Linked DNA regions of Homo sapiens. The protein of the gene in region 2 purifies or fractionates together with the protein of the main gene of each other region. This does not show direct contact. Each region holds a gene or a part of one and is shown on either strand. Other genes may lie near its edges. The genes, in order: CLSTN3, CDHR4, GUSB, DNAJC16, TSEN2, MRC2 and SKIC3.

Evidence for each region.
Region 1: the proteins of CDHR4 (region 2) and CLSTN3 purify together in Homo sapiens (affinity purification with mass spectrometry; one large-scale study listed by BioGRID and IntAct). This does not show direct contact.
Region 3: the proteins of CDHR4 (region 2) and GUSB purify together in Homo sapiens (affinity purification with mass spectrometry; one large-scale study listed by BioGRID and IntAct). This does not show direct contact.
Region 4: the proteins of CDHR4 (region 2) and DNAJC16 purify together in Homo sapiens (affinity purification with mass spectrometry; one large-scale study listed by BioGRID and IntAct). This does not show direct contact.
Region 5: the proteins of CDHR4 (region 2) and TSEN2 purify together in Homo sapiens (affinity purification with mass spectrometry; one large-scale study listed by BioGRID and IntAct). This does not show direct contact.
Region 6: the proteins of CDHR4 (region 2) and MRC2 purify together in Homo sapiens (affinity purification with mass spectrometry; one large-scale study listed by BioGRID and IntAct). This does not show direct contact.
Region 7: the proteins of CDHR4 (region 2) and SKIC3 purify together in Homo sapiens (affinity purification with mass spectrometry; one large-scale study listed by BioGRID and IntAct). This does not show direct contact.

What each region holds. Positions count from the first base shown.
Region 1 is NC_000012.12:7,150,242-7,154,577, reverse strand, and holds part of CLSTN3 (calsyntenin-3 precursor), read right to left. Parts: intron 4,035-4,336; coding exon 3,889-4,034; intron 3,651-3,888; coding exon 3,515-3,650; intron 1-3,514. UniProt on the Homo sapiens protein: Postsynaptic adhesion molecule that binds to presynaptic neurexins to mediate both excitatory and inhibitory synapse formation.
Region 2 is NC_000003.12:49,789,689-49,793,845, forward strand, and holds the end of CDHR4 (cadherin-related family member 4 precursor), read right to left. Parts: coding exon 4,115-4,157; intron 4,035-4,114; coding exon 3,895-4,034; intron 3,789-3,894; coding exon of another isoform or gene 3,714-3,788; exon of another isoform or gene 3,624-3,713; coding exon 3,473-3,623; intron 3,387-3,472; coding exon 3,166-3,386; intron 2,923-3,165; coding exon 2,780-2,922; intron 2,272-2,779; coding exon 2,215-2,271; intron 2,114-2,214; coding exon 2,026-2,113; intron 1,784-2,025; coding exon of another isoform or gene 1,781-1,783; coding exon 1,753-1,780; intron 1,200-1,752; coding exon 1,144-1,199; 3' UTR 1,044-1,143; downstream 1-1,043. UniProt on the Homo sapiens protein: Cadherins are calcium-dependent cell adhesion proteins. They preferentially interact with themselves in a homophilic manner in connecting cells; cadherins may thus contribute to the sorting of heterogeneous cell types.
Region 3 is NC_000007.14:65,964,798-65,969,133, forward strand, and holds part of GUSB (beta-glucuronidase isoform 1 precursor), read right to left. Parts: intron 3,111-4,336; coding exon 2,934-3,110; intron 1-2,933. UniProt on the Homo sapiens protein: Plays an important role in the degradation of dermatan and keratan sulfates.
Region 4 is NC_000001.11:15,560,701-15,565,036, forward strand, and holds part of DNAJC16 (dnaJ homolog subfamily C member 16 isoform 1 precursor), read left to right. Parts: intron 1-1,441; coding exon 1,442-1,625; intron 1,626-3,228; coding exon 3,229-3,411; intron 3,412-3,582; coding exon 3,583-3,659; intron 3,660-4,336. UniProt on the Homo sapiens protein: Plays an important role in regulating the size of autophagosomes during the formation process.
Region 5 is NC_000003.12:12,486,827-12,491,162, reverse strand, and holds part of TSEN2 (tRNA-splicing endonuclease subunit Sen2), read right to left. Parts: intron 1,380-4,336; 5' UTR 1,363-1,379; coding exon 1,174-1,362; intron 1-1,173.
Region 6 is NC_000017.11:62,665,368-62,669,703, forward strand, and holds part of MRC2 (C-type mannose receptor 2 precursor), read left to right. Parts: intron 1-726; coding exon 727-900; intron 901-1,087; coding exon 1,088-1,252; intron 1,253-1,389; coding exon 1,390-1,503; intron 1,504-2,022; coding exon 2,023-2,166; intron 2,167-4,336. UniProt on the Homo sapiens protein: May play a role as endocytotic lectin receptor displaying calcium-dependent lectin activity. Internalizes glycosylated ligands from the extracellular space for release in an endosomal compartment via clathrin-mediated endocytosis.
Region 7 is NC_000005.10:95,523,504-95,527,839, forward strand, and holds part of SKIC3 (superkiller complex protein 3), read right to left. Parts: intron 2,171-4,336; coding exon 2,084-2,170; intron 1,999-2,083; coding exon 1,895-1,998; intron 1,089-1,894; coding exon 962-1,088; intron 332-961; coding exon 152-331; intron 1-151. UniProt on the Homo sapiens protein: Component of the SKI complex, a multiprotein complex that assists the RNA-degrading exosome during the mRNA decay and quality-control pathways.

The DNA.
Region 1 (4,336 bases), on a different chromosome or scaffold from region 2:
AGATACATAATACCCTCATCATCCGGCTTGCTCTTCTCAACCAACCTTATTCTCTCTAACCATAAACACTCTTAACCACCTATCTACCCCCGGTTCTCAAATTCCCATTCTCTCTCACACCCATCCAAAAATCCCTTTTACAGTTCAGGTCCAAATGCAAACTCTACATGTGCCACAAAATCTCCCCTGACTGTTCCAGTTTACCCTGGTTCCAGTTCACATTCATCTCTCTTTCTCTAGTGCACTTAGGAGATTTAGAGCAATGGGCCTCCGTGCCACTGGAGGAGATCGTACCTCTCACTGCTTCTGCATGTTTAGAATGGTTTGATATTGTGAAACCACAGTTCTGCAACACCACTCGAGATTTGTAGGTGAAAGGGAGGGAGCACCTTGCGGAGTCAGAAAAGGCATATGGAAAGGGTTTTATGCCGTGAATGGCCTGTCAGCTCAGGCATGCCAATCACCAGTGCCCTCAGGGAAGCTACGAACTCTGTGTCCTATTCAGGTCAAAATAAGAGAAGAAGCAAAGGAAAACTGCTGCTCTCAACTGAAATCTGAGGGAAGCTTGATCAGCCTGGACATGAGCTCAGAACAAAGGATGGGGAGACTGGGCTTCACCGAGGGGAGGTGAAAGGGTGCCGTGAACAGACACTCCTCCAGGGGCTGAGGGGTGAGAAACGCTGCCCGCCAGACCAGCCCATGCAGGGCAGCTGGACACTCAGGGGAGAAGGTGCTGGGCTCCTAGAACAAGAAGTCTCTCACCTGGGGCCTTATACCAAAGAAAGTAAGGATCGAGAATCTCACCAGGCCAGGCAGCACCCCTATCTACCTTGAGCCTAATCAGAGTAGCAGGACCTAGTATCCAACCAGAAAAGATTGAGTGGAATGATCCCCAATGAAAGAACTGGAGAAAGTGCTATGGAATCACAAGAAGGAAAAAAATTTATAGCTGGCCTCAAGAGTTTATTTGAAATAAATAGGTTTAGCTTGCTAACATGTCTCTATTGACTAAATACTATGTGAAACTTCTCTAATCTTTGCAGCTTGGTTATGCCTTATATTCCCCGCTAATCCTCACTTCCACCTACTTGCTATAGTGAATCACAGTAGAACACTGAAAAAGGCGTCTGCAAGTCCAAGTGCGGCGGCTCACACCTGTAATCCCAGCACTCCGGGAAGCTGAGCCAGGATGACCGCTTGAGCCTAGGAGTTCAAGACCAGCCTGAGCAACAAAGTGAGACCTTGTCTCTATAAAAAGTCTTAAAAATAGCCAGGCATAGTGGCATGCATCTGCTCCTCAGGGGGCTAAGGCAGGAGGATTGCTTGAGCTCAGGAGTTCGAGGCTCCAGTGAGCTAGGATTACCACTGCTCTCCAGCCTAGGCGACAGAACAAGACCCTGTCTCTCCCTCCCAAAAGCCTCTGCGGTTGTTTTCAGGGACAGCAAGGAAGAAGGGAGCCAGTCCCAGAAAAATAAAATAAAATAAAATAAGAGACAGTGTAGGTGGTGGCCGTTGCACAAGGAGAGGAAGCCAGACTGAATCCCTGGGGGCATCAGAGGAGCTGGCCTCAGTCAGAAAACCCTGGGAAGCCCCTCAGGGGCTCCCCCTAATTATATGCAACTCTAAAGTAATAAGACTAATCTTTTTTAAAGCATCAAACATCTGGGGAGAAGGGTGAGGGCCATGGTTAGTGCACAGACTGGAATCATGCCTCCTGGATTTAAATCCTGGCTCCACTTACTTTCTAGCTGCGTGAACTTGGGTAAGGCACTTGAACTCTCTGTGCCTCTGTGTCCTTGCCTGTAAAGGGGATAATTCTGGTACCCATTTCATTGGTTGTTTATGATGGCTAAATGAGTTAATAAGCGTAATCCCCCGAGCACAGTGCCTGGCACATGATGAGAGCACCCTGTGTTTGTTATAATTATTATTACCCATCACATATATTGAAATAAGTTCTGTACTTTCACATAGTGTTCAGAGACCACAAATTTCTTCCCAGAAAGCACTAGTGGACTCCTTTGAGAATTGCCTTCAATTCTCAAAAGCCTGTGACACAACCTTTTGACTCTTTTCAAAGGTGACCGATCTATGGCCTTTGAGAGTGGGTTTAATGTTTAAAAACTTAAAATTATATCCAGATTCAACTTTGGCAAAACTGGGTGATGAAGTTGAGTAACACTGAACAGGGTCAAAAGCAAGTTATGTCCAAAAAATAACAAAAATAAATGCACCTCATAAATTGGCTCTGAAAGCAATTCTAAGAAGGGGTTCCAAAAATCACTTTCAACAACATCAGCATCATTTGCAATTTTTAATAATGTGGGAAAATACTTGTTTTATAATATGAAGTGTAAATATCAGGTTACAAAATAGGCTAATCCTAACTTTCTAAAAAGGAAAAATTAAGCATAGAAAAAAGACTGGAACAGAATACTCATATTATCAGTGGTTTCCTCTCTGACGGAATTATGGCTGAGTTTTCCTCGTCTTCTTCTTTCTTTTTTTTTTTTTTTTTTCCTTTGAGACAGAGCCTTGCTCTGTCTCCCAGACTGGAGTGCAGTGGTGTGATCATGGCTCACTGCAGCCTTGGCCTCACAGGCCCAAGAGATCCTCCTACCTCAGCCTCCCAAGTAGCTGGGACTACAGGCACCTGCCACCATGCCCAGCTAATTTTTTTTATTTTTTGTAAAGACAGAGTCTCACTGTGTTGCCCAGGCTGGTCTCAAACTCCTGGACTCAAGTGAGCCTCCTGACTCAGCCTAGTGTGTTGGGATTACAGGCATGAGCCACTGTGCCTGGCCTGATTTTTCTTCTTTAAAAGAAATATTTGATATTTTCTGGTTTTTCTACAATTACGCAACTCAAAAGTTGAAAATAAAATTGCACCATTCGTAAAGGACCATGACCGGGAACCTTTGGGACCACGGCCAGGTTGCTTTGAAGGGCAGCTTTGAAGGGCAGCACTCCATCTGAATGTAACGCTTTGCATATTTGCATATATTTTTTAGAAATATTCTTGTGACTGCATACGTAGCACATAATTTTACATGTAATAGTACCAATTCTCTCCTTGGGGATAGGGACTGATCTATCCTATAAATCATTTAGATCATCTTAGGACAGTGCTAGTACATAGTAGGTGCTTAGTAAATACTTGATAGTTTCACCACAGAGGATCCTAGGTCCAGGGCTAATTTGATATTGCTTGGGGCTGGGGAAGGAGGCATCATCAGGTATAACAAACACGCCTAAACCCACACTGACTTTATGACTGCAGGCATAAGCATCCCTACAATGACACAAGGCTCATGTTCTTCACAAGGGAAAGTGAATGATCCAAAGGGAGAGAGGGATTGGTCCATAGCTGTCAACTAAGGCAGGTACCACAGGGAACAGAACCCATTGCTCCACCTACCTTGTCCTCTCCCAGAGGTGGAGGGGGAGGATACCTGTCCCAACACACTCACCTGCCACCTGCCCCTCCCTGCCCAGCCCCACCAGGCTTACGTACTGGAGTTTCTGTGGGAGCTGGCTAGGCTGTGTCCAGCCATCTCAGGCGGGGGCTGGTGACCACGGTGCAGGAACTGCTGGGAGCTGAGCACGTGGCTGGGGTGGGCAACCCGGTTCATGCTGTGCAGGACATTGACCTGGGCAGAGGGAGGGCTCCATGGGCACACACGCTTCTCCCAGGTCCTCCCCACTTCTCTAGACCCCAGCCCCATCTCCTAACTACTGCCCCCATCTCCTTCTCCTCCACCCACTGCAAGGTCCAGCAGCCCTCCACGCTGCCATGTCCATGCCCACCAACTAACATTTTGAGTCCATGCCACCTCAGCTCCTTTCTGGGGGTGGGTAACTGTGGAAGGAAGGAGACTCTCTGGGTACCTCCACGATGAATTCATTGCTGGAGTAACGGCCATTCATTTCCGAGCAGGAAAGCCGGAACTTCCTGGTGTAGAGGGCAGCTCCGTGTCGCAGCCGATAACGAGCCTGCCTCAGGATCTCTTCATACACAGTGATGCTCTCCACCCCTGGAGATGAGGAAGCACCTCAGGGCAGGGGCCAGTGGAGGCAGGACCTGGGCAGGACCCTCTCTCCTGGACTCCCACCAGCTGACGCCACACAAGCTGTAGAGCAGGTCAGCCCCATCTCCGCAGAAGTGCGACCTGAGGTCGAAGGGAGGGATGCTCCCCTCCATCCCTGCCCACTCTGACTAACTAGGATGGAGAGATCAAGGCTCCATTTCCTGCTCTGTAGGTTCTGAGGAGGAATGGAAAGAAGGAGATAAAGACATCCTGAAAGACAGAAAGGGAGATGGCAAGCAGGAGGGAAT
Region 2 (4,157 bases):
AACCATTACATGCCTTATTAAAACATCTCATGTACCTCCAAATTTATACACCTATGTACCCACAAAAATTAAAAATTAAGAAAAAAATTAAAAAGAGAAACATCTCAACAACAACAACAACAAAAGCAACAGTGAGCTAGGCACGGTGGCTCACACCTATAATCCCAGCACTTTGGGAGGCTGAAGGGGGAGGATGGCTTGGACCCAGGAATTCAAGACCAGCCTGGTCAACATAGAGAGATCCCATCTCTACAAAAAAATTAAAAATTAGCCAGGCATGGTGGTCCATGCCTGTAGTCCCACCTACTTGGGATTCTGAGTAGGAGGATCGATTGAGCCTGGGAGGTCAAGGCTACAGTGAGCCACAATCACACCGTTGCACTCCAGCCTGGGCAACAAAGCCAGACAGCCAGACCCTATCTTTCTCTCTCTCTCTCTCTCTCTCTCTCTCTCTCTCTCTCTCTCTCTCTCTCTCTCTCTCCCCCTCTCTCCCTCTCCCCGCCCCCTCTCTCCTTCACACACATGCGCGCGCGCGCGCGCACACACACACACACACACACACACACACACACACACGCAGCATTGTTCTCTCTCTTCTGGATAGGAAAAGGAAGCAGGTGGCCCTGAGGAGACATGCTGATTGGAGGCCCCTCAGTCACTGACAAGGATGATAGCCTATTACTTCTATAGAGCATCAGTCACACTGTCAGTCTGAGCATCACACAATACCTTCTTAAAAGAAAAATAAAGCCAGGTGCAGTGGTGCGCCCATCGTCCCAGCTACCCAGGAGGCTGAGATGAGAGGCTCTCTTGAAGCCAGGAGTTAGACGCTATAGTGTGCTATGATAACACCTATGAATAGCCTCTGCATTCCAACCTGGGCACCATAGTGAGACCCTGTCTAAAAAAAAAAAACCCTGAAAGAGAAAAGGAAAACCTTACTGCTCCCTAGAGTCTGCTCACAAGGTAGGGAGTTGTCCAAGTGAGAACAAGGAGGCACAGATTTCAGAGCTTCTCCCACACGTTGGCTACAAGGCTAGAACTTTTCTTTTTGTAATTTTGTTTATTATGAATCAACTTGAAAATACAGCCCATGATGGTGTGAAAAAGAAATTCCACACATAGTAAGACAGCTACTTGGCCTCAGAGCCAGCGCCGGGCTCCTGTGTGTGTGTTAAACAGGTAGTCTCTTCCGGTACCTAAAACCGGTAGGAGAGAGAGGAGAGCAGGGGGTGCTGCTGGCCCCAGAAGAACTGCCTCCCTCCCCCTTACTTAAGGGTAGGAGATTATTCCTCCAGGACCCTCAGTGTGACATCCCACCTTCGCTGGAATCTAACCTGTCCCCTCCCTCCCTTCTCAGCAAATTCTCTCAACTCTGACTCAAATGCACAGGAAGCCTCCTTGATTCTCCAACACTGGACACCAGCTTCCCTAAGGCAATACCAGATTACTCTCCCATAAATCACTGGTGACATTGGACTATCTGGAGGCCTCTCCCCTCACCATCATCCCTCCTCCCGTTGTGGGCAGAGACCAGACCAGATATGAGTCATCTCCTGACCCCCTAGACGTTTGACAAAGGATGGATGAAGAGTGAGCGGGGATGAGAGCAGACCCCATTCAGGAAAAAAGCAGATAGATGGTGGGTTCCTGGGAGTAGGAGGAGATATTGAGATGGGGTAAAGAGAGGAGGAGATACTCAGATGGGGTGAGGGCCCAGGCAGAGAATAGCTTAGGAAGAGGGGGACTCACGGGAGTCCTGTGCTCTGCCATCAAAATGCTGCTGAGGGAAAAAAAAAAAAGATGCAATGAATTGAACCCTGCCCACAGGGGAGCAGATGAAGGCCTGCCCCTAGGGGGCCAGAAGCCCACCTGCCTCCTCCATTCTGATGGTGCTAGTGTGGGCATTTCCACAAGGATACCCATTCATCGGAAAAGGGGCATGGGAAAAAAGGCTTGGAGGGGGCAGGGGAGTACTCTGAAGCACCCTTGGTGTCCACTACTTGAGATGGTGAGCTGACATACCAGACTCATGACACTGCTGGGTGCCTGGGACATCTCCATCTTCGGTGCCTCCAGGAAACCCTCGATGGATCCCTCAGTTCCCTGGATGCTGGGGCAAAGTACGAGCAAGAGTACAGGGCAAGGCTCTGGGCCCTAACCTGAGTTTAAGAGATGGGATCCCAGGCATAGAAGTATGCAAAGGAGACTGACCTGTTTAGCAGCAAAGCCTGGGCTGGTTTGCTGGGTGCTTGCAGCAGCTGGGCCAACCTAAAATGCCAGGAGGAGTAACGAAGCAGTGAGGGCAGCAGGCCTACTGGCTCCAGGAATCAGCACCATTCACCCATTCCTTTATATTGGGAACAACCAATGTCTGTATGCAGTGCCCACATTGTTACATCCCCTTTCCCTGGGCTCAGTCCTATGTCCACAAGGAACTTCAGAGTCTACAGGAGCAGGAAAGCTTTCCAGTGGAGGGCAGAAGTCAGGAATAGGGGTAAATGCCCAATGTATGACAGACTCACAGTTTCAAGCCCTGAGCTTATCTACCCTCCTCCCATTCCAAGACTGGATTCTGCCGGTGATGGAAGTTGCTTCCTCCCAGTGTCTCTCTGACCCTAATCTAAAGACCTCTGGAGGGAGAGTAGCCCTCCTCAATATCAGTTCGTCACCCACCTACTTGGGCATTGTCATCTAATCTTGGGTGAAACCACCCATCACAACTGGGGTCCATAGGTGGGTTGGGGGCAAGTAGGGAGCACAAGGATAGGATCCCTACCCCTGGAGGAGCCTGCCAAGAAGCCAGCCTAGGGCCAAGAGGAGAAGAGCACCAGTTGCTGTCAACACCACCACAAACCAGGGCTGTGGCTGCCAGAAAGCCTCTGTGTCTGTCACGAGCATGGGTGTCATCGTTGAGGGCACCTGAAAAGGAGGCCACAGCCTCACCACTGCCTTGCCAAAATGCCCTGACCATCCAGCCTTCCAACCCTTCCCCGGGCTAAGCCACCCCACACCCATGATTTGCTCTTCAACACTGCTGGGCTCTCCGCACTCTGCGCTTCCCTCTGAACTGCCTTCCCCATAGTTCCACCTGAAAAACTGGGTCTCCTCACTCTCCAAGGTCCACCCTTCCCACCCTGCTGAGGGCCCAAGGAGCCTCCTCACTGTGGTTCTGTGGGTGCTGGTGGCCACTGTGCTGGCCCTCCGGGGAACTAGATGCACAATAATGGTGGCTGTGGTGCTGAGGTGGGGGGTGGAGGGGCCTGCATCGGCCACACAGATCAGTAGCTCATAGGTACGGGGCTGCTCTGGCCAGAACGGCCCCAACACAAGGTCACTGTGCACCAGGATGGCCCCTTGCAGGATGAATCGGTTCTGGCTATTCCCTGAAAGCAGAATGACAGGAGGAAGAGACCATTGCTGGCCTTGGCCTGCCCCTCACTCACAACCTGGTGGTGCCCATGTCCCCTACCTCCCACGATGCTATAGGAGTAGATCAGGCGCTGTGGCTCCTGAGGGATCTGGCATGACATCTTGGTCACCTCCACGCTACGGCCCAGAGGAGCATAGATGGTGAGTTCCTGAAATGGGGGCTCACACTCGGGGGCATGGTCATTCACATCCTGCAGAAAGGAACCAGGTTAGGAGTGGGTGGAACCCACCCCCTAAACCTCTGAGCCAGCCCCTCAACTTCTTCTCACCACAGCCGTAGCCTAGGCATCAAGTGATGAAGTCATCACACAACAGGCTCCAGAGCTTTCAATTAGGCCCCACTCTTCTCCAGCCAACTCGTGGAAGAAACCAAGGCACAGAGTGGAAAAGCAGAACACCACAGGGCAATCTGAACTCCTGTCTTTCCAAGTATTTATTTCCAAAGCCTTAGGACGCAATTACCTCAACCTCGATGGTAATGGTACAGGAGCCTGAGAGGTGATGGTTGGGGTTCTGGTCTTGGCCATGGTCAATCACAAGGACAGTGAGCCTGTACAGCCTCTGCTGCTCATAGTCCAAAGGTCCCAGGAGGTGAACTTCCCCTAGAGGGGGAGACCACAGCTTCAGCCTGCAGGGCCAACTCTGGCTCCCTGTTTCCATCCCAGCCCTGGGGTGGATGTACCGCTGAGACGGTCCACAGCAAAGGTGGTAGGACCACCAGAGGT
Region 3 (4,336 bases), on a different chromosome or scaffold from region 2:
GTGGCTCATGTCTGTCATCCCAGCAATTTGGGAGGCTGAGGTGGGAGGACTGCTTGAGCCCAGGTGTTCAAGACCAGCCTGGGCAACATAGCAAGACCCCATCTCTACAAAAAGTACAAAAATTAGCCAAGCCTAGTGGCACACATCTGTGGTCCCAGCTACTTGGGAGGCTGAGGTTGGAGGACTGCTTGAGCCCCAGAGATCAAAGCGACAGTGAGCTGTGTTCACACCACTGCACTCCAGTTTGGGTGACACAGTGAGACCCTGTCTCTAATAAATATATATATATATATAAAAATTAAATTAAATTAAACTCAACCAAACCAGGCTGGGCATGGTACCTCAGGTCTGTAATGCCAGCACTTTTGGAGGTCGAGACAGGAGGATCACTTCAGCCCAGGATTTCAAGACTAGTCTAGGCAACACAGTGAGACCCAGTCTCTACAAAAAGTCAAAATATTAGCCAGGTGTGGTGGCGCACGCCTGCAGTTCAAGCTACTTGGGGCTAAGGAGGGAGGATCGCTTGAGCCCAGGAGGTTGAGCAGTGAGCTGTGATTATGCCACTGCACTCCAGCCTGGGCAACAGAGTGAGGCTGTCTCAAAAAAATTTATTTAATTAAACTAAATCAATTCAGTTATCCTAGTCATATATCAAGACCTCAGTAGCCATGTGTAGCTAGTGTGTACCATTTCAGACAGTGCAAATATAGAACATTTCCATCATTGCAAGTTTGTTTTTTTTTATTTTTTGAAACAAGGTCTCACTCTGTCACCCAGGTGGGAGTACAGTGGTGCAATCATAGCTGAATGCAGCCTTGACCTACTGGGCTCAAACAATCCTCCCACCTCAGCCTCCCAAGTGGCTTGGACTACAAGCACTCATAACCATGCCCAACTAATTTTAAATTTTTTGTAGAGATGGGGTCTATGTTGCACAGACTGGTCTCAAACTCCTGGGCTCAAGAGATCCTCTGACCTTGGCCTCCCAAAGTGCCAGCATTCCAGGTGTGAGCCACCATGCCCAGCACTGCAGAGGTTCTATCAGCACTGACCTAGACCCTCTCAAGAGTTTCTTAAGAATTCAGAGCTAGGGCTTGGCACGGTGGCTCATGCCTGTAATCCCAGCACTTTGGGAGGCCAAGGCGGGCGGATCACTTGAGGTCAGGAGTTCAAGACCAGCCTGACCAACATGGTGAAACCTCATCTCTACTAAAAATACAAAATGAGGTGGGCGTGGTGGCGCATGCCTGTAATCCCAGCTACTCGGGAGGCTGAGGCATGAGAATCGCTTGAACCAGGGAGGTGGACATTGCAGTGAGCCGAGATCGCGCCACTGCACTCCAGCCTAGGCAACGAGAGCGAAACTCTGTGTCAAAAAAAAAAAAAGAATTCAGAGCTGGTTACCTTTTCAAAGAGGATGCGCAAGCAAATATATCCAAGAGCCACTTCCCCTACTTGACTAGTTTGCAGAAGTGGCATTCTGTAAGCACGATAAATTTAAGGGTGCAAACAGAACAGCGCAGTCCACTGTGGGTGGCTGTTCCCTGTGTGTCAACCAGGAGCTGTGACAAACAAGTGTGAGCTGGCTGGGGTGGGAATGAGGGGCTGGATGGGGTTCAGGAATCCACAGGAAAAAAAAAACCTCACAAGACAAACCAACATATCTTTGGTGAGGAGGACAAAAAAATGAGATAGATTAAAAAAATGACGACAGGCTGGGCATGGTGTCTCATGCCTGGATTCCCAGCACTTTGGGAGTCTGAGGCAGGACAATCACGTAAGGCCAGGAGTTCTAGACCAGCCTGATAGACTCCATCTTTACAAAAAAATTTAAAAATAGGCTGCACATGGTGGTTCATGCCTGTCGTCCCAGCTACTCAGGAGGCTGAGGTGGAAGAATTACTTCAGCCCTTTAGTTCAAGGCTGCAGTGAGCTATGATGACACCACTGCACTCCAGCCTGGGCAACACAACAAGACCCTGAAAAAAAGAAAAAGAAAAAAAGGCTAGCACAGTGGATCATGCCTGTAATTCCAGCACTTTTGGAGGCCAAGGCAGGAAGATCAATTGAGTCCAGGAGTTTGAGACCAGCCTGGACAACATAGCAAGACCCTATATCTAAAATATGAAAATTAAGAAAAAGGATATTTTAGTTGGTGATTATGGTGCCAACATGGGCATTCCAGGCAGAAGAAACAGCTCAAGCAAGAGCAGGAGAGCAAGCGAGGGCAGTGGAAACAGATCAGTGGCTGGGATAGAGGGGAGAAGGGGATGAAAACCCAGGAGAGAGCAGAGGACACTGAGTGTCCTGACCAGAGGTTAGGGCTTTGTCCTGTGGGCCTGGGGGAGCCAATGACAGGACTCCCAAAATTTTCAACTGTGGCTGGTGCAGAGGCTCACACCTGTAATCCCAGCACTTTGGGAGCCTGAGGCAGATCACTTGAGGCCAGGAGTTCAAGACCAGTCTGGGCAACATGGCAAGACCCCATCTCTACAAAAGTAAAAAAATTAGCCAGGCGTGTTGGCATGTGCCTATGGTCCCAGCTACTCAGGAGGCTGAGGTGGGAGGATCACTTGAGCCCAGGAGGTTAAGGCTGCAGTGAGCAGTGATCGCACCACCACACTCCAGCCTGGGTGACAGAGAGATCCGGTCTCAAAAACAAATACAAATTTGGATCTGTTAGAAAGACCACTTGGGCACGGGTGATAGGAGGCTATCTGGAAACAAAGCCAGTAAGGAGGCCACCTCTGAGGACCAAGTGAGTGGGGCACAGGCCTGGCTGTTGGCGGTGAGGGAACGTGGACGGGGCCGTGGGAGGAGAGCCCAAAGCTGAAGCGAGGGGAGCAGTGCAGTGGGCGCAGGTCAGGCTGGAGGAGGTGAGTGACATCTCTGCCCTGAGAGAACACACAAGCAGAAAGCTCAACACTGCTTACCTGGTGAAACCCTGCAATCGTTTCTGCTCCATACTCGCTCTGAATAATGGGCTTCTGATACTTCTTATACCAGTTCTCAAACTGGGTGGCCAGCTGCAGCTGAATCAACTCCAGGTGCCCGTAGTCGTGATACCAAGAGTAGTAGCTGTTCAAACAGATCACATCCACATACGGAGCCTAGGACCAGAGCAGCAGAGCCCGTTCAGCACTCAGTAGACAGCATGACTCAGCATTCACACACTGCGGGGGCTCCTCTGGCAGAGAAGGTAAGGGGGATGTAATCCCAGCACTCTGGGAGGCTGAGGCAGGAGGATGGCTTAAGACCAGCCTGGGCAACACAGCAAGACTGCAGCATTACAAAAAATAGTAGTAAGAAAATTAGCAGGGCACGGTGGCTCATGCCTGTAATCCCAGCACATTGGGAGGCCAAGATGGGAGGATCACTTGATCCCAGGAGTTCGAGACCAGCCTGGGCAACATCACAAGCCCCCATTTCTACCAAAAAAAAAAAAAAAAAAAAACCTAGAACGGGAACAGCTGCCTCCTGGGGCTGAGAACGTCCAAGTGTACCAATTTAGATCCTGAAATTACCCTGCCATAGGCAAGAAACATGGTCACAAAGTGGCCCAGAGGAGGTAGGCCTGGGACTCCACACTGACACTCATGACGTGCGCCGCTGGGAAGGGCTGTGAGAGGCACAGCAGCTGCCAACGCACAGCCCTCAGCCAAAGCCCAGGGCCCCCACCACTGGAACTGACTCCTCTCCAGGCAGCACTCCCATCACTGGGCTTCCCCTCACCTTGCCCTGGAGAAGCGCTGCCACCCGAGGGGCCGATGCAGTCATTCTCACAGAAAATCTTTTGTTTTGTTTTGGAGACAGAGTCTCGCTCTGTCGCCCAGGCTAGAATGTTAGTGGTGCGATCTCAGCTCACTGCAACCTCTGCCTCCCACCATCAGGTGCTTCTCATGCCTCAGTCTCCCGAGTAGCTAGGATTACAGGCGTGCGCCACCACGCCCAGCTAATTTTTTGTATTTTTGGTAGAAATGAAGTTTCACCAGTTGGCTGGGCTGGTCTTGAACTCCTGATCTCAAGTAATCTGCCTGCCTCGGCCTCCCAAAGTGCTGGGATGATAGGTGTAAGCCACCATGCCCGGCTGTCACAGAGGATCTTGAGGGAGCTTTCACAAGGCAGCACTGTGGACTGCAGAGGGCCAGAAAAGTCACTCCAAGGAGCAGGGCGGTGACGACCGAGTAGGACCACCCCAAGCTTCAGCATAGCGGTGCTTACAGCTGAGCAGCAGGGGCTTCTGTGTCCAACTGGCTAGTTTCTAATGCGTCCTGAACACATTTCTTTCTAGTAAAAATGCTGGCCGGGTGTGGTGGCTCACGCCTGTAATCCCAGC
Region 4 (4,336 bases), on a different chromosome or scaffold from region 2:
AAAAAAGAATATCCTGGACTGTAAGGATTGTTGTTTACACAGCCTTCAAAAAATATCCCAAATCCACACACTTCTCACTTTTTTTAACCACTGCCACCCTGGAACAAGCCACCATCGTCTCCCAGCGAGACCCCCCTGGCAGCCTTCTAACTAGTCTCTCTGCTCCATTCCACTCTTGTACCCTCCAGGCAGATGTCCACACGTCAGCCAATAATGTTTGAAAATGCAAATCAGATCCAGTCACTCCCCATCCTGGGGTCTTTGCACTTGTAGTCTCTCTACCTGGGATGCTCTGACCCCATTTCCTGTCATAACAATGTCACCTTTTCAGTTGGCACTTCCCTGACCAACCTGTCTGATGGAGCCTGGCTTCTACCCACTCTGGCCTCTCTCTGTCCCCTTTTCATCTTTTTTTTTTTTTTTAATATATAGCACTTGTTGATACCTGTCATAATATATCTGTTTTCTGTCTTCCCCACTGGAATATAAGCTCCATGAGGGCAATAATATTGTCTATATTACCTGACATATACTAAGTGCTCAGTAAATATTTTTGGGAGAATGAATAGCTAAACTTTCCATTGGAACCTTGCAAAGGAAGCCGTTCAGAATGAGGCTCAGTGGCCTCTGGCCTGAGAGAGATTTGACCAGCCCTCCCTATACTGGAAGAACTAGGACAAATAGTTTCTAAAAGGCCCTGCCGGCCAGGAACAGTGGCTCACGCCTATAATCCCAGCACTTTGGGGGGCTGAGGCAGGCGGATCACTTGAGGTCAGGAGTTTGAGACCAGCCTGGCCAACATAGTGAAAACCCGTCTCTACTAAAAATACAAAAACTAGTTGGGTGAGGTGGTGCACGCCTATAATCCCAGCTACTTGGGAGGCTGAGGCAGGAGAATGGTTTGAACTCAGGAGGCGGAGTTACAGTGAGCCGAGATCACACCACTACACTCTCCAGCCTGGGCGACAGAGCAAGACTCCATCTCAAAAAATAAAATGAAAGGCCCTGCTGCATCAGAGATTCAGTGACCAACCCCTTAAATTCCTGGCAGGCACGATGGCTCATGCCAGTAATCCCAACACTTTGGGAGCCTGAGGTAGGAGGATTGTCTGAGGCCAGGAGTTCAAGACCAGCCTGGGCAATATAAACAAAACTATATATATATAGTTTTCATATATATAAAATTTCATATATATAAAATTTTAAAATTCGTAAATGTGGTAAAGAAGTTTGGTTTGGGAAAAACATCACAGATTGGGAAGAGAAACAGTTTGTTAATGACTTGGAAATCCTCCCTTAGTTGAAATGTCAGCTTTCACTGGGCACAGTGTATTCACTTCCATAAGATGAGCTCCTCGTCTTCTTCACCTTCACTTGCCATTATAGGTGCTGGCCCTGCCATCAGGGATTGGTTATAAAGTTTTGTCTTTTTGTTGTGCAGGTACTGTGTGGTTTTATTGACTGCTGAGACTACCAAGTTGAGCAAACCCTTTGAGGCTTTCCTGTCCTTTGCCCTGGCAAACACTCAAGACACAGTGAGATTTGTGCATGTCTACAGCAATCGGCAGCAGGAGTTTGCCGACACCTTACTACCAGACAGTGAGGCGTTTCAAGGGAAATCAGCGGTAAGCCACAGAGTCTCTCCTCATCCCAGGCTCTTCATAACCATGTGGCACTTGATTCTGTTTCCTTCTTCCTTGAGAGTGTTGAATACAGATTCTAGGAAATCTGAAACTCTGAAGCCTATTTTCAAAGTCTACTCTTTTGTTTTTCCTTTTTCTTGATTTTTTTTTTTTTCTTTTGAGACAGGGTCTCACTCTGTCTCCCAGGCTGGGAGTGCAGTGACATGATCTCAGCTCATTACAGCCTCGACCTCCCAGGCTCAAGTGATCCTCCCACCTCAGCCTCCCACATAGCTGGGACCACAGGCACACACAACCACGCCTGGCTAATTTTTTGTATTTTTTTGTAGAGATAGGGTTTCGACATGTTGCCCAGGTTGGTCTCAAACTCCCGAGCTCAGGCAATCCTCCCGCCTCCCAAAGTGCTGGGATTACAGGCATGAGCCACTGCTCCTGGCCTAAAGCCTACTCTTAAAACAGTTTTTGACCTGGTCTTTTTACATTCTGGATGTCAGCCTCAGGCCCCCACAGAAACCATGTTTTCTATCAGTGAACGGTAAAGGTCATCAGTGCTTTTCACCAGTTTTTTACTAAGGCAAGTCTGGTCTTGCAGCATCCTAGATCCTAGATTTTACAAATCCTTAGGCCACTGGTAATGTGCTCTGGAAATTTCTGCCCCCCTCTGCCTCTTTAACTTCATCCTGGTTGATCTCTCCTGCCTTTCTCCTGCATTGTCATCACTTCCTACAGAAACAAGAAATTCTCCTCTGACTTTTCATCATTTTCGCAATCATGGAAAATCTCTCTAAAAAACAAAGGTTTCCATTAATATTAAGTCAAGGTTATAGAGCAAAGTCTATTGAGAAAAAAGAGCTTTAACTTTTAACAAAAGCTTAGGAAAGTCACCATAAAAGTTATTTCTTAGGCCGAACGCGGTGGCTCACACCTATAATCCCAGCACTTTGGGAGGCCGAGGCGGGTGGATCACTTGAGGCTAGGAGTTTGAGACCAGCCTAATCAACATGGTGAAACCTCATCTCTACTAAAAATACAAAAATTAGCTGGTGTGGTGCACACCTGTCTGTAGTCCCAACTACTCAGCAGGCTGAGGCACGAGAATTGCTTGAACCTGGGAGGCAGAGGTTGCAGTGAGCCAAGATCGCACCATTGCACTCCAGCCTGGGAGACAAGGGCGAAACTCTGTCTCAAAAAACAAACAACTGGGCCAAGTGTGGTGGCTCACAGCTGTAATCCCAGCACTTTGGGAGGCCAAGGCAGGCAGATCACGAGGTCAGGAGATCGAGACCATCCTGGCTAGCATGGTGAAACCCCATCTCTACTAAAAAAAAAAAAAAAAAAAAAAAAAAATACCAAAAATTAGCCAGGCATGGTGGCAGGTGCCTCTAGTCCCAGCCACTTGGGAAGGCTGAGCCAGGAGAATGGCGTGAACCCGGGAGGCGGAGCTTGCAGTGAGCCAAGATCACGCCACTGCACTCCAGCCTGGGCGACAAAGCAAGACTCCGTCAAAAAAAAAAAAAAAAGCAAACAACTGTAACTTAACCATGCTTTTGAAACTTCTGATGTTTTTTCTCTACTTTTCTTCCAGGTGTCTATTTTAGAAAGGCGCAACACAGCAGGAAGGGTGGTGTATAAAACCCTGGAAGACCCTTGGATTGGGAGTGAGAGTGACAAATTTATCCTCTTGGGCTATCTCGACCAGCTGCGTAAAGATCCAGCTCTTCTGTCCTCTGAAGCAGTGCTTCCTGACCTGACCGATGAACTTGCCCCTGTGAGCATCGGGGCTGGGAAGGGTGGGACACCAGGAGGGCTTGTGAGTACACAGTGCTGGTGGCGGATTTCTGCTCAGAGCAGAGGTCCAGCAGCAGCACTGTGTTGCAGGGTAGAGGGACTCTCCCTTCCGGCTTTAGTCCTGACCATCATCCATTTTCTCTCTACATAGGTTTTTCTCCTTCGATGGTTCTACTCTGCTTCTGACTACATCTCAGACTGCTGGGATAGCATTTTTCACAACAACTGGTAGGGATATTGCCAGGCTGAATTTCTTTTTCTCTGTTAATACTGATATCACTGTTTTTCTTTTGAAAAGAGTTCATCATTATTAAATTTCAAGGTACACTTGATGGGGCAAGTGGAAGAACGTTTACACATTTTCTATTCCCCTTTTTCTTTCTTTCAGTAACTTCCCTTTTTTTTATTTTTTACTTTTTTTTTTTTTGAGACAAAGTCTTGCTCTTGTCCCCCAGGCTCAATCTGGGGATCACTGCAACCTCCGCCTCCCAGGTTCAAGCAATTCTCCTGCCTCAGCCTCCTGAGTAGCTGGGATTACAGGCACCTGTCACCATGCCTGGCTAATTTTTGTATTTTTAGTAGAGATAGGGTTTCACCATGTTGGTCAGGCTGGTCTCAAACTCCTGACCTCAGGTGATCCACCCGCCTCGGCCTCCCAAAGTGCTGGGCTTACAGGTGTGAACCACTGCTCCCGGACATTTTTTATTTTTTATTTTTTTTTGAGACAGAGTCTCACTCTGTCACTCAGACTGGAATGCAGTGGCACGATCTCAGCTCACTGCAACCTCTGCCTCCCAGGTTCAAGCGATTCTCCTGTCTCAGCCTCCCGAGAAGCTGAGATTACAGGCACCCACCACCATGCCCAGCTAATTTTTGTATGTTTAGTAGAGACAGTGTTTCACCAT
Region 5 (4,336 bases), about 37 Mb from region 2:
AAAAATTAGCCAGGCATGGTGGCATGCGCCTGTAGTCCCAACTACTCGGGAGGCTGAGGTGGTAGAATCACTTGAACCTGGGAGGTAGAGGTTGCAGTGAGCTGAGATCATGCCACTGCACCCTAGTCTGGGTGACAGGGTAAGACTCTGTCACAAAAAACAAACAAAAAAAACACCCAGCAACAACAAAAACCAAGAATAAATAATGCATACAGCACTTTATAAAGCCTCTTGCTTAATGTTATATACTGTAAATGAAGGCCTCCCTGGTGAGCTGCCCTTGGCCTACTGAGACTCCTGCCTCACCATGGCCAGTGCCACCCACTCTTCTATCAAGTGTCTAGAGAAGGCACATTTATGGAGACAAGACGCCATTCCGTGGCTGCCTTGGGCCGGGAGTGGGAGCAGGGATTAAGTGTGATGGGCACAAGGGAACTCTGTGGTGATGGGAATGTTCTAAAACTGGACTGTGGTGAGAGTTGTGCAACTCTATAAATTTATGACAATCACTGAATTGTATACTTACAATGGGAGGACTTTATAGTTGTAAATTATAACTCAATAAAGCTGTTTTTTAAAAATGCCCACAGCAATGAACAGATTATGGAAAATTTTTTTTAAAGAACTACCAGTCTTCATTCAACTTGATCAATGCTGGAAAACAGTAAAAACTAGAACTTGTCCTCATCTGAGAAGAGGTCCCCAACCAGGAGGCAGCAGATAAGGAGCTCCATGCCAAAGCCCCATCTGATCCGTGCCTGAGTAGGGACACTATGCCACGCTGTGGCTACCTCTGGGAACGGGATGGGAGTGAGTGGGGAATTTTCACTTTTTTACCCATTACATTTCTGTAAATTACTTTTTTTGTTCCTTTAACAAACATGCATTGCTTTTACAACTAAAGACAAAAAAAATAGTCAATCCATTGAACCTACTTCATCACTGAAATAAAGGTTTGTGGGCAGGGGTGCTCCATCTGTCATTCTATTACCCTAACATATGGCTTTTGGGCACTAATTCAAATTGTACTTTTCCTACAACTGGACCAAACCGCAAGGAAAGAATACACATTGTTCATGGTTGGTGTGGGGGTATGGCTGGGATGGGGAGAAGGAAAGGACTGCTTGCTCAGGGTTGTCTGAAAGTAATCTTACCAAGGCTGCCTGCACTTACTTTCCCATAGAGCTGCTCAATGTCCTCCGCATTCCTCACAATCACATTGTTGTTAATCATTTCAGCACGGAATATCTTGAATTCTTTCAGAGGACCATGGTCCTGACCAAAAGGGATTGGCAATGGAGACTCGTAAGTCTCATACACTCTTCTTTTCCTCTTTGGGGCATGGAAAACTGCTTCTGCCATTTTTCAGAGGAGGTATTCTTTAAAGAGTAGACAACAAACAGAAAGAAACAGACAATCAATAACTACCTTGATCCAAAATGTGAGTACATCTGTACCTAGGCTCAGAAAACTTAGTGGTCTGTGGGAAGAAATAGAGTATTTATAAAGCAATAAACTAAAAGCAGTAAGAACAGTTTGTGTGAGCAATGTAAATCATATTGACCTAGAATACTGCAATTAATCCCCACAATAAACCCCAGGAAATGAGTGGTAATCTTTCTACTCCAGCTGACAACGCTGAGACCTAGTGACATGCCCAAAGCTGCAATGTTAGGTCTCCTGAGAGCAAGCACAACAGGATTTCTGTCTACCAGGAGTGCTTCCATTTCACTCACCCAACAGACATTTACTACCAGGAATTCCTAATAATCATAGGTGCTGGGGAGACAAAGACAAAACTGAGACCCTGTCCTCAACAAATTAAATCTTGCAGGCACTTCATTTTCCAAGAGGATCTTACAATACACACTAAACATTGGGTCAATCAGCTCCCAATTTTTAAAGTACATTAATAAATAATAATGACAGCAGCAGTTATTTAAGGGTCGATTATATACTACCAAATGCTACTGGCTTCAAGCAGGGACTCTAAAGCCAGACTATCAGCATCAGAATCAACTTTACCACTTCCTAGCAGTGTGATTTTGGGCAAAAGTCACTGACTCTCTCTGTGATTTAGTTTCCTCACCTGCAAAATCAAGATAAGAACGACTCTATCTTACAGTTAAGATCCATAAAGTGCTTAGAACAGTACCTGGCACATAGCGTGTACCATTCATGTATCAGCTATAATTAGTATTACAGGGTGAGCAGTAGCAACACCATTTTACAAATAGGAAACAGATTCAGGTTAGAGAGATTTGTAGACGACCCCGAGTGTGGTGGCATCGGGTGACCCAGGTCTGTTGAACTCCCAAGCCCATGCCCTCTCTCTAGATTCTGCTGAAAGCACAGGCAGGGTCTATCTACTTTTGTCTGATGACTCTTTCTCAAAATCAGACGGTGAAGGGTTATTGAGCAGTAACGGAATTACCCACTGTGCACCCAGCACCATGAGGGAGAACAGAAAGCCAAAGCCAGTACGTGTCCCTCTGGGGCCATACATTGGATCCAAGGAGACAAAACAAGTATATAACATAGCTGGAAGCACAGAAAGCAGGTTGGAGCTAACGGAACTGGCTGTTATCCACTAATGTCTAAAGGAGGGAAGTAAATGTGAACATATTGTGTGATGCAGACACAGAGATACAGTAGATGCACTTAACCTAGGAAAACGTAACCATATACATGGGAAAACAATGTAAATGGTGCAAGACATTCCACTCGAGGAGCAGCTGTCCTGGAATGAGATGGGAAACTTGAATCTGCTGCTCCCCCAGTACTAGGTCTAGACTTGATTTCAACTGAGAGCTTACCTGGTGCTTGAAGATACAGTGCGGCCAAATCATACACACGTTTAACCTACATGACTCCGAATCCTCACAAGGGAAAAAATAAGACTAATTACTTAGGTGGCTCCTGCACTCAGTACTTGCATCCCATTGGCAAGGGATGCCATCAAGCCTGAAACAGTCAAGAAGGTGGCCAAAACTGAGGGAGGGGAAGGTGAGTGGCTTTAAGAGTGTCATGACCATTAAGAAAAGGCTTATCCAACGTGTGATGATATCAGTATCCAACTTCTCAAGGAAGAAGCTGAGGAATTATATGAGGACACAGAAAAACACAGACTAAAGAGGAGTTAGAGGAAATGATACATCAATTACAAAGATAACCATGAAAAAGAAGAATCGGGAAGTTGGAACCTTCCTAGAATTGCCATTGTTCTAAGCAGCAACATGCTAGATTAATTTCTAAATAAGGTTCCTTGAAGGAATTACATACTGAGCATTACTTTGTACATTTTATATTTATGCATGCATCTTGCTGTATAGTGTTTATAACAAAACCACGTCTACTGCATGCTCACAGGAAACCTAAGAGATTTTCTTAAGAGCATATTTAGACTAGGCTTTACCTTGCTTGCTGACTTATCCCTCAGCCCAAGTACTAAATTATCACATTTAGTACTCAATTGGAGAGACAATAATTTATTCTAAAACTGAAAATAAACACTGCTTTTTGGGGGCAGGATGTTGGTCTCTAGTAAGGCACTTTTTGAAAGACTTCCAGGAATGGTTTGGACTTTTATGGGATTTTTCACTTTTATAACCTCTGCTCAGCAGCTGACTTATATACATTACATTCGGAATTTTAAAAAAATGAAAAAAGATTTAATGGCCACCTTCAAGAAGTTCTAATAAATTCTCTCAACAAATAAGAGTTGTATTTTAGTCTGCCTCATTTGTTCAGCGTTTTTCCCTCTCAGACTGCTGTCACATCTAAAAAAGGCAAGATTTAGCTGTGACACTTGATCGAAAGAACTCTGTACTCCAACCCAGGTGTGTGGGATGGAAGGGTCCCTGCGACAAAACACCCCTCATAATCCAAGTTCTTGTGTTACTCTTGCTCATGTGGCTGCACACCCCTCAGGAATTTGGCTCGCAGTAGGCCTTCCAGACATGCAAAGCCGCCATTATTATTGTGTGACCTTGCACAACCCACTTTCTCTAAGCCCAGTTTCATCTTCAAATCGAACAGGACTGGAGGAGTCTGGCAGTTCCTCAAAATGTCAAACACATAGTTACGACATGATCCAGCAACTCCACCCCTAGGTATAGACCTAAGAGAAATGAAAACATATGTTCATGGAAAAATTTGTATGTGAATGTTCACAACAGTATTATTCATAATAGCATCAAAGTGGAAGCCATCCAAATGTCCATCAATAGTTGACCAGATCAACAAAATGTGGTCTATCCATATAATCAAATACTTAGCCATAGAAAAGGAATGAAGTTCGGATACATTCTTCAACACCTGAAAGCATTATGCTAAA
Region 6 (4,336 bases), on a different chromosome or scaffold from region 2:
ACTGTGCAGCCTGGGTGACAGAGCAAGACTCTGTCCCCCCCCCCACAAAAAAAAAAAGAAAAGAAAAGAAAAAAGAAAAATTAACTTCAAAGCATTTAATTTACTTTTGTAAAAATTGCAAAATACATGCTTGTAAAGTCTTCAAATAGTATACAAGTATATAACATAAAATTAAATGAAAATTCCCTTCCCCCAGGCCCACTCTCCAGGTGAAACCCCATTGTAGCCCCCCATGTTGTCTTAATGCCTGTCTTGCATGTGGTGAATGGGGACCAGAGTCACCATGTGAGGGGCTGGCCTCTTGTGGTGGACAGCCCCGTCCTGGGGGGGCCTTTCCTGGGAGACCCCCTGAGTTCCGAGATAGAACTTTGTGGGGACACAGAGCCCATGGGCTGGGTAGCTGAGCAGAGATTCCACCGGGCTCAGCCCTCTGTGGGTGACTTGGAGGCCCTCTTGCCCAGCTGGAGTTTGGATGGGATTAGGGGTACTAGGGAGCCCCTTCCCAGCCCTATGAGGTGTGCAGCAAGACCTCTCTCTGGTTCCTGGGCTGACTCAACAGCAGAAGAAGCCTTAAAGCCACTATGGGGTGCCATTGCCTCTCCCACCTGCTGATCCCTGTGAACACCCAGCACTCTGGGTTTTAGGGGATTTCTCCTGAGGGTCGAGGGGCTTGGCAGCCTCTGGTGTCCAGATGCCAAGGGCCTGGCCCCTGTCCACCCCCTGCAGAGGTCTACACCATCCAGGGAAACTCCCACGGAAAGCCGTGCACCATCCCCTTCAAATATGACAACCAGTGGTTCCACGGCTGCACCAGCACGGGCCGCGAGGATGGTCACCTGTGGTGTGCCACCACCCAGGACTACGGCAAAGACGAGCGCTGGGGCTTCTGCCCCATCAAGAGTGAGAGCTGTTGGAGCCGTGGGGGCGGGGGCAGTGTTCCTGGAGGGAGGCTGGTGCTGAGGGGCCCCGGGGCCCAGGGTGAGATACTGCCCCCTCCCCTACCTAGTGTAGCCTTTTGGTGGGGGAGGGTCTGCACTCCCGAGGGACCCTGGAGGGGGCCTGAAGGAGAGGGCTGTCGTGGTGGCAGGTAACGACTGCGAGACCTTCTGGGACAAGGACCAGCTGACTGACAGCTGCTACCAGTTTAACTTCCAGTCCACGCTGTCGTGGAGGGAGGCCTGGGCCAGCTGCGAGCAGCAGGGTGCGGATCTGCTGAGCATCACGGAGATCCACGAGCAGACCTACATCAACGGTGAGCCGGGGCCTGATGCCTGCTCGTGCCTCTGGAGGGCCCGGGCCCTTTCCGCTTGTGGGTTGGGGAGAGGGCGATGGGGAGCGGGGGAGGCTGGGGCTGGGGATCCCCTGTTCAGTGTCCCTCCTTGCTGTCAGGCCTCCTCACTGGGTACAGCTCCACCCTGTGGATCGGCTTGAATGACTTGGACACGAGCGGAGGCTGGCAGTGGTCGGACAACTCGCCCCTCAAGTACCTCAACTGGGAGAGTGGTGAGGCACAAGGTTGGGGGCGCAGGGCAGCATAGGGGCCCCGCGGGCTCTTGGCCTCCCATGGACTCCTCTCCTCATGTCCTCCTGCAGAGGGGCAGTGTGGGTAGGGGAAGCACCGACCTCCACCCCCCTCCCCAGACTGCGCCCCCCTAGCCCATGTAGGGCGGCGCTGCCCCAGGCCGAAGGTCTTGGTGCATATGGACTGGGTGCCAGCCTCCACTCACCTCTTCAGCCACCCCTGTGGGCAGCGGGCACCAGCGCACCCAGCAGCCTGGACGGGGAGGCCGGGGCGGGGCTGGTACTGGTTACTGGGTAGAAGGTTCAAGGCGACGTGCACCCAGGTTAGAAAGCGCGGAGGACCCCGTGGTCTGGGGCGGAGCTGGAGCTGAGCACCAGGCTTCCCGAACTGGCTCAGGCTTCCGAGGGAGCAGAGGGAGGTAGGAGGTTCTGAGCAGGGCCCCGGGAGCCACGGTGTGAGCTTCTCTCTCCGGGGGTGCTGGCGCCCTGCCCTCCCCACAGACCAGCCGGACAACCCCAGTGAGGAGAACTGTGGAGTGATCCGCACTGAGTCCTCGGGCGGCTGGCAGAACCGTGACTGCAGCATCGCGCTGCCCTATGTGTGCAAGAAGAAGCCCAACGCCACGGCCGAGCCCACCCCTCCAGGTGAGCCAGGGACTGTGCCGCAGGGTGGGGAGGGGCTCCCAGGGCCAGGGACACAGCCACAGAGCCGTGGCAGGCCCAGCCTCTCCTCCGGTTACCACCACAGCACAAGGGGACTCTGGATCCTCTGACTCTTATTTCATTGTTCAGTTAAAGTCTGAGCAAATTGGAATATGTCATTAATTCATTTGGGGAACATGTGCTGAGATCTGTGTTAAATGCTGGCAATACCCACTGTTACCTCGTAGAGACCACAGTCTGCTGGAGGTGACAGACATCTCAATGCAGTTAGACTATCCCAGGTCATGAGTGATTATAGAAATATGGATCAGTGTTAGAGGAGCATAGAGAAGAAACTGATTCAGCTTCTGAGAGTTAAGGAGGGGTTTATGGAAATAACATTTGATTTGGGCCTTTCAAATTGAGTCTAAGTTTAAAAGATATAAAGAGGTGTGGGGGAAGGGCATTCCTGGCAGAGGGAAGAGCATATGCAAAGGTGTGGAGGCCTAGAACTACACTGCAGCTTTAAGGGGTGGTGAGTGATGGCCGGGCACCGTGGCTCACACCTATAATCCCAGCACTTTGGGAGGCCAAGGCAGGAGGATTGCTTGAGCTCAGTAGTTCAAGACCAGCCTGGGCAACATAGCGAGACCCTGTCTCTGCAAAATATTTTTAAAAAATTAGCTGAGTGTGGTGATGCACGCCTGTCTACTAGGGAGGTCGAGGTGGGAGGATTGCTTGAGCCTGCAAGGTTGAGGCTGCAGTGAGCCTCGCTTGCACCACTGCACTCCAACCTGGGCAACAGAGCGAGACGAGACCCTGCCTCAAAAAATAAATAAATAAATAAATAAATAAATTTAAAAAAAAAAAGAAAAAAGAAAGAAAAAGAAAAAAATGGATGGTGCCTGTTGCAGTTTGGGTGGAGTATAGATTCTAACCACTTCAAGTATGGTCATCCAACCAGCAGCACAGCATCCCCGGAGGGCTTGTTAGAAATGCACAGTCAGGCCCGCCCCAGAGTAATTGAATCAGAACCTGCATTTAACAAGATCCTCAGATGATTCATGTGCAGACACAGTTTGGGAAGCCCTGGCTTAAAGGGCATGGTGAAGAAGAGGCAGGTTGCAGCCAGTCTCTGCAGGGTCTTGGCTGCTGGGCCAAGTTTGGGTGGGGCCAGGTAGGCTGTGGGGAGCCTTTGAAGATGTTTAAGCCAGGGAGTGTCTGGTTCTCGTTTGTGATCATAGAGACAGCTTTAGGGGCCTCGTGGAGGAGTTGGGGCAATGGACAGGGTCTGCTTTAGGGATTCTGCCCCTTACTGCTGTGTGGCCCTGGGCAAGCAGCTTAGTCTCTGGGGTGCAGAGTCCTCATTGCAAATGGAGAATGAAGCCACCCCCCTTGCAAGGTTGTTGTGAGGAAGGCTGGAGATCTGGCCTGGCACGAAGGAGTTTTTCTGTAGTTGGCTGTGGATGTTTACTGTGGTGTAGGTTGGAGGGGCTGTGCAGTTTCCTGCGAAGCTGTGGGGTGGTGAGGAGACTTTTACAAAGAAAATATGGCAACACACACACACACACACACACACACACACACACACACACAACACTAACTACAGACAGTAAAGAGTTTACAGAGCAAAACTTCTGCTCCTGACCATGGAAGTCTTGCCAATGATCGACTCAGGACTGGTTTTTTTGTTTGTTTGTTTGAGACAGGGTCTCACTCTGTCACCCAGGCTGGAGTGTAGTGGTGCGATCTTGGCTCACCACAACCTCTGCCTCCTAGGCTCAAGAGATTCTCGTGCCTCAGCCTCCTGAGTAGCTGGGATTACAGGCGGGCATCACTACTTCCCGGCTAACTTTTGTATTTTTAGTAGAGACGGGGTTTCACCATGTTGGCCAGGCTGGTCTTGAACTCCTGACCTCAGGTGATCTGCCCACCTCGGCCTCCCAAAGTGCTGGGATTACAGGCGTGAGCCACCGCACCCCGCCTTTTTATTTTTATTTTTATTTATTTATTTTTTGAAACAGAGTCTCGCTCTGTCGCCCAGGCTGGAGTGCAGTGGCACAATCTCCACTCACTGCAACCTCCGCCTCCCAGGTTCAAGCGATTCTCATCTCCAGGTTCAAGCGATTCTCATGCTCCAGCCTCCCGAGTAGCTGGGATTATAGGCATGAGT
Region 7 (4,336 bases), on a different chromosome or scaffold from region 2:
AAAAAAACTTCACTTACAGAGGCAAAAATATTTATATTGCACCTATAGAAAAAAAACTAATGATAACTTTCAAGTATACATATATAAAAATATTTTCATTTATATACTCAGGATAAAAAAAACAAAAAGCAAAAGTGATTATTAGACATACCATATCTTCAAGCTCCACACTTAGGTCAACTGCTGCAGCTCCAGATTCAGCATCAGTGTCATCTAATTCAAAGGCTTTCCTATAACATCCACGAGCTCTGTTTTTATCTCCCACTACGTCTCTATAATAATGACCTAAATAGCAGAAAACTTTGCCCATATATGTATCCAGTCTTGCAGCCTTTGAAATAAATATTGATAATAACAGAACATTAAAAGTTCATTTAATGAGTATCTTTACAAATACAGAAGATAAATACACAGATTAAAGAAAAAAGAAATAATTTCATTAAACATACAAAAATATGCCAAAAAATCCTTTGATGTAAGATTTAAAACAGACAGGAAAGCTGTCCCTCACTGCTTATAGAAAGTAAAAGGAAATATAAAAATATTTTGTTTTTTGGTAAAGGAAATGTGAAATTAGAGCTGCTACTGAATTAATCTGCTCTTACAAGTCAAGATAAGAATGTAGGACTTATAGATGTTAAACATCTAAAAAAACAGGAATTTAAACATCTAACTTGTATGCTCATAAAACTACAGTGAAAATTACCTTAAAAGTATTGTTTACAAGAGATAATTATGTCTCGTTTTCTACAACACATGCTTTTCAAAAAGTAACTTTCACATTTTATGTTTTAATTTTTTCCTTGAAAACCCATATAACACCATCACAAAACCTGACATATGAAAGATAAAGCACAAAAAACAGTTCAGTAAAGAGTAATTGTAACTAATGTATATGATTATTATTTATGATTTTATAATGCCATTTCAACTAGGAATTGAATTGTAGCACTTGCTTTACCTTCAGAAAGTGGGTAAGAGCCTTTGTTTTATCTTTTCTTGTCTCTTCACCCATGAACCAGTATGTTAATCCAAGTTGGTAATGATATTCTGCAACTTCGGTATCTTTCTCAAGAGCTCTCTGAAAACTAAGCCACCAAAGGGTAATAAAAAGAAATAGTAAAACAAATACACACACACCCACACGCAATATAGGAGACTCCTAGTTGGAACAATCAAAGTTTGAGTGATTCAGAGGTGCCAAATTAGAAACCAATCATCACTTTAGGATTTATATTATCATAAGGAAAAAAGTGATTTGTTTTTGAAGAAGAGGATCTTAAAAAAGCACAGTGGCCTTTTAGCACTACCATGTGCTAAGTGTTCAGACTATACTGAACATTACATCTGCTTAGTGAACATTATGATCAGCTGATTAGATTTTTTTTTTTATTTTTTGAGTCCGAGTCTTGCTCTGTCATCCAGGCTGGAGTACAGTGGAATGGTCCTGGCTCACTGCAACCTCCACCCCCCAGGTTCAAGCAATTCTCGTGCCTCAGCCTCCTGAGAAGCAGGGACTACAGGCATGTGCCACCACGCCCAGCTACTTTTTGTATTTTTAGTAGAGATGGGGTTTCATCGTGTTGCCCAGGCTGGTCTTGAATTCCTGCGCTCAAGAGATCACCTGCCTTGGCCTCCCAAAGTACTGAGATTACAGGTGTGAGCCACCACGCCCGGCCAAGATCAGCTAATTAGATTTGAAACCCATCATATAATTTTTTATAGCTACTGTACTACATGCTAAATACATTTCTTTAAAATACTAAAACTTAAAGCCTACAAAGATCAAATTCATGAAAAATCAAATCTTCATCAAGCCTACTCATTTTGAATTTTTCAGAAATATAAAGAACTAAGATGTAAATGGTTCTATGAGCAATTTATATATCCTTACCATTTTTCTGCTTGTAGATAGTCCTTTTTGGTGAAATGAATCAAAGCCTCAAGGGCATGAACTTCAGCTAGGTCAGGGTAAGAAGAGAGAAGGTCTTCCATAATCTATAAAGTAGACACCTGTCAATTCTATAGCCAAATAAAAATGCTTTTAACTCAAAAAATGCTCAGTTTGAATAAAAAAGCCAACCTTTGCAGCTTCATCAAATGAACCTTTGTTCCGATAGGCCAAGCTTTTGAGAACCAAAAGTCCTGGGATATTATCTGCATCAGAAATCTAGAAAATAATTGTAAAGAACTGCTATAAATCTCCTTCAACACAACCACAGCAATGTTTGCTTTAATTAACGAACGAACACAGAAAAGCATGGTCCTAATAGAATAAAGAAATAGAGGTCCTGATTTCTATCACTAATAACACATCTTCACTCTTCATAACCTTTTTATTAAGGAAAATCTCATATACATAAAAAAATTACAGAAACTAGTATAATAAACCCACATGTACCCATCATCCAGCTACAAAACCACAAACTCACAAGCAATCATTTTTTTCATCTATACCTCCACTAATTTTACCACACTTCTGCTCAGATGATTTTGACACAAATCCCAGATATTGTAACTTTTTACCTGTAATACTTCAGTATCTATATCTAAAAGTTCATTTCTAAGTTGCATAACCACATTACCATTATCATACCTAAACAAAAACAACATCCTTAACACTATCAAATTTCTCAGTTGTCTCATATTTTAACAATTTTAAAAATCAAAATCTAAATAAGACACATACATTTGAACTTAATGATAATGCCTTGTCTCTTTTAATCAATAAGGTCCCCCTCCTTCTCTTTTTTTTTTCTTCCTTACAATTTAACTGTTGAAAAATATGGCCTATTTGTCACAGTTTCTCAGAGTCTGGATTTTGCTAAACGTATTCTCAAGGTGTTTAACATGTTCCTTGGTTCCCTGTATTTTCTGTATATTAGTAGTTGGGTTCAGAGGTTTGAAGATTCCCAAGGATACTTCAGGTCTTCAGGTGTATTTGCACTTGGTTGTGTCTGACTGTCTTTTTTTTTTTGTTTTTTGGAGAGACAAGAGTCTCGCTTCGATGCCCAGGCTAGAGTGCAATGGTCTGATCTTGACTCACTGCAACCTCTGCTTTCTGGCTTCAAGCGATTCTCCTGCCTCAGCCTCCCAAGTAGCTGGGATTACAGGTGCATACCACCAAGCCAGACTAATTTTTCTATTTTTAGTAGAGACAGAGTTTCACCATATTGGCTGGTCTCAAACTCCTGACCTCAAGTGATCCACCTGCCTCGGCCTCCCAAAGTGTTAGAGGCATGAGCCACTGTGCCCAGCCTGATTGCCTTTGTGTGATGTTAGTAGCCATTAACCCTTGATGCCTAGATCTATTAATTCACTGGGGATTGCAAAATGGTGATTTTCTGTCATTTTCTCTTATTAGACAGAATACTTCAACAAAGGCAAATTTCTCCTACCTTCGTTATTTCATTATCCTGAGGAATGATTCAGATAAAGGCAGGATAAATGCCTTTATTCTTCATAGTTGGGTTCTTAGCATCCCCCCAAACATTTGTTTTCTTGAGGACATTTGCTGAGTTTTCTGAATCATCATGAACACATGGATTTAAAATATTTGATCTGTTTCAACATACCACATTAGTAACGCCCTTTTTAGCCAGTAAGAATCTCTTTATGCTAGCTCTTGAGCCCTTTTGTAGTCTGAGCCCTTTTATAGTTTCTTGCTTTCTAGCATGACAAGGTGTTCTTGGTTCATCTTGTACATTTTCTATCTCAGACCTGGACTCTGCTAGTTCTCCAAAATAGCAGTCATTTGTTTTTTTGTGAAAACATTATTTGAAAAACCTTTATAAAGCATTCACACAAAACACATTATTGGTGGGATGGCAAAAAGAAAACAAGAAAATATTAATTGTTGAAAGATGCTGACAACGGTTCTGATTTTAAAGAAATATTATGAAATACAAAGCCCTTTGAAATACATAAAACTGATTTAAAAACTCAATTTTAATTTAGACCAGTAATAGTCTTTACCTGACAAAAATCTTTAGGGCATAATGCTATAATTCATAATTTACCAGTTATAGTTTTTTTCACTATGGACTTTCAAATTGCTTTAACTCAAAACACTAAGAAATCGGTTTCATTATGAAATATGAATCTTTCTTTGAATGAAACAAATAAACATTCTCTACCATGAAGCTAACAGTGTCCTTAATTATTCTTGTCAAATCTGCAGAACACTTCCTGAAGGAAAAAATTTGGAATCTCAAATTAATAATAATCAAGTAGTAATAACCTAAGAGGGCAAAAGGAAGAAACGAGAATGAAGTCTAGAACTAACGAAATAGTCTTATATGATGAGTACTATAAGTCCTTAATCAAAAAGCAAACA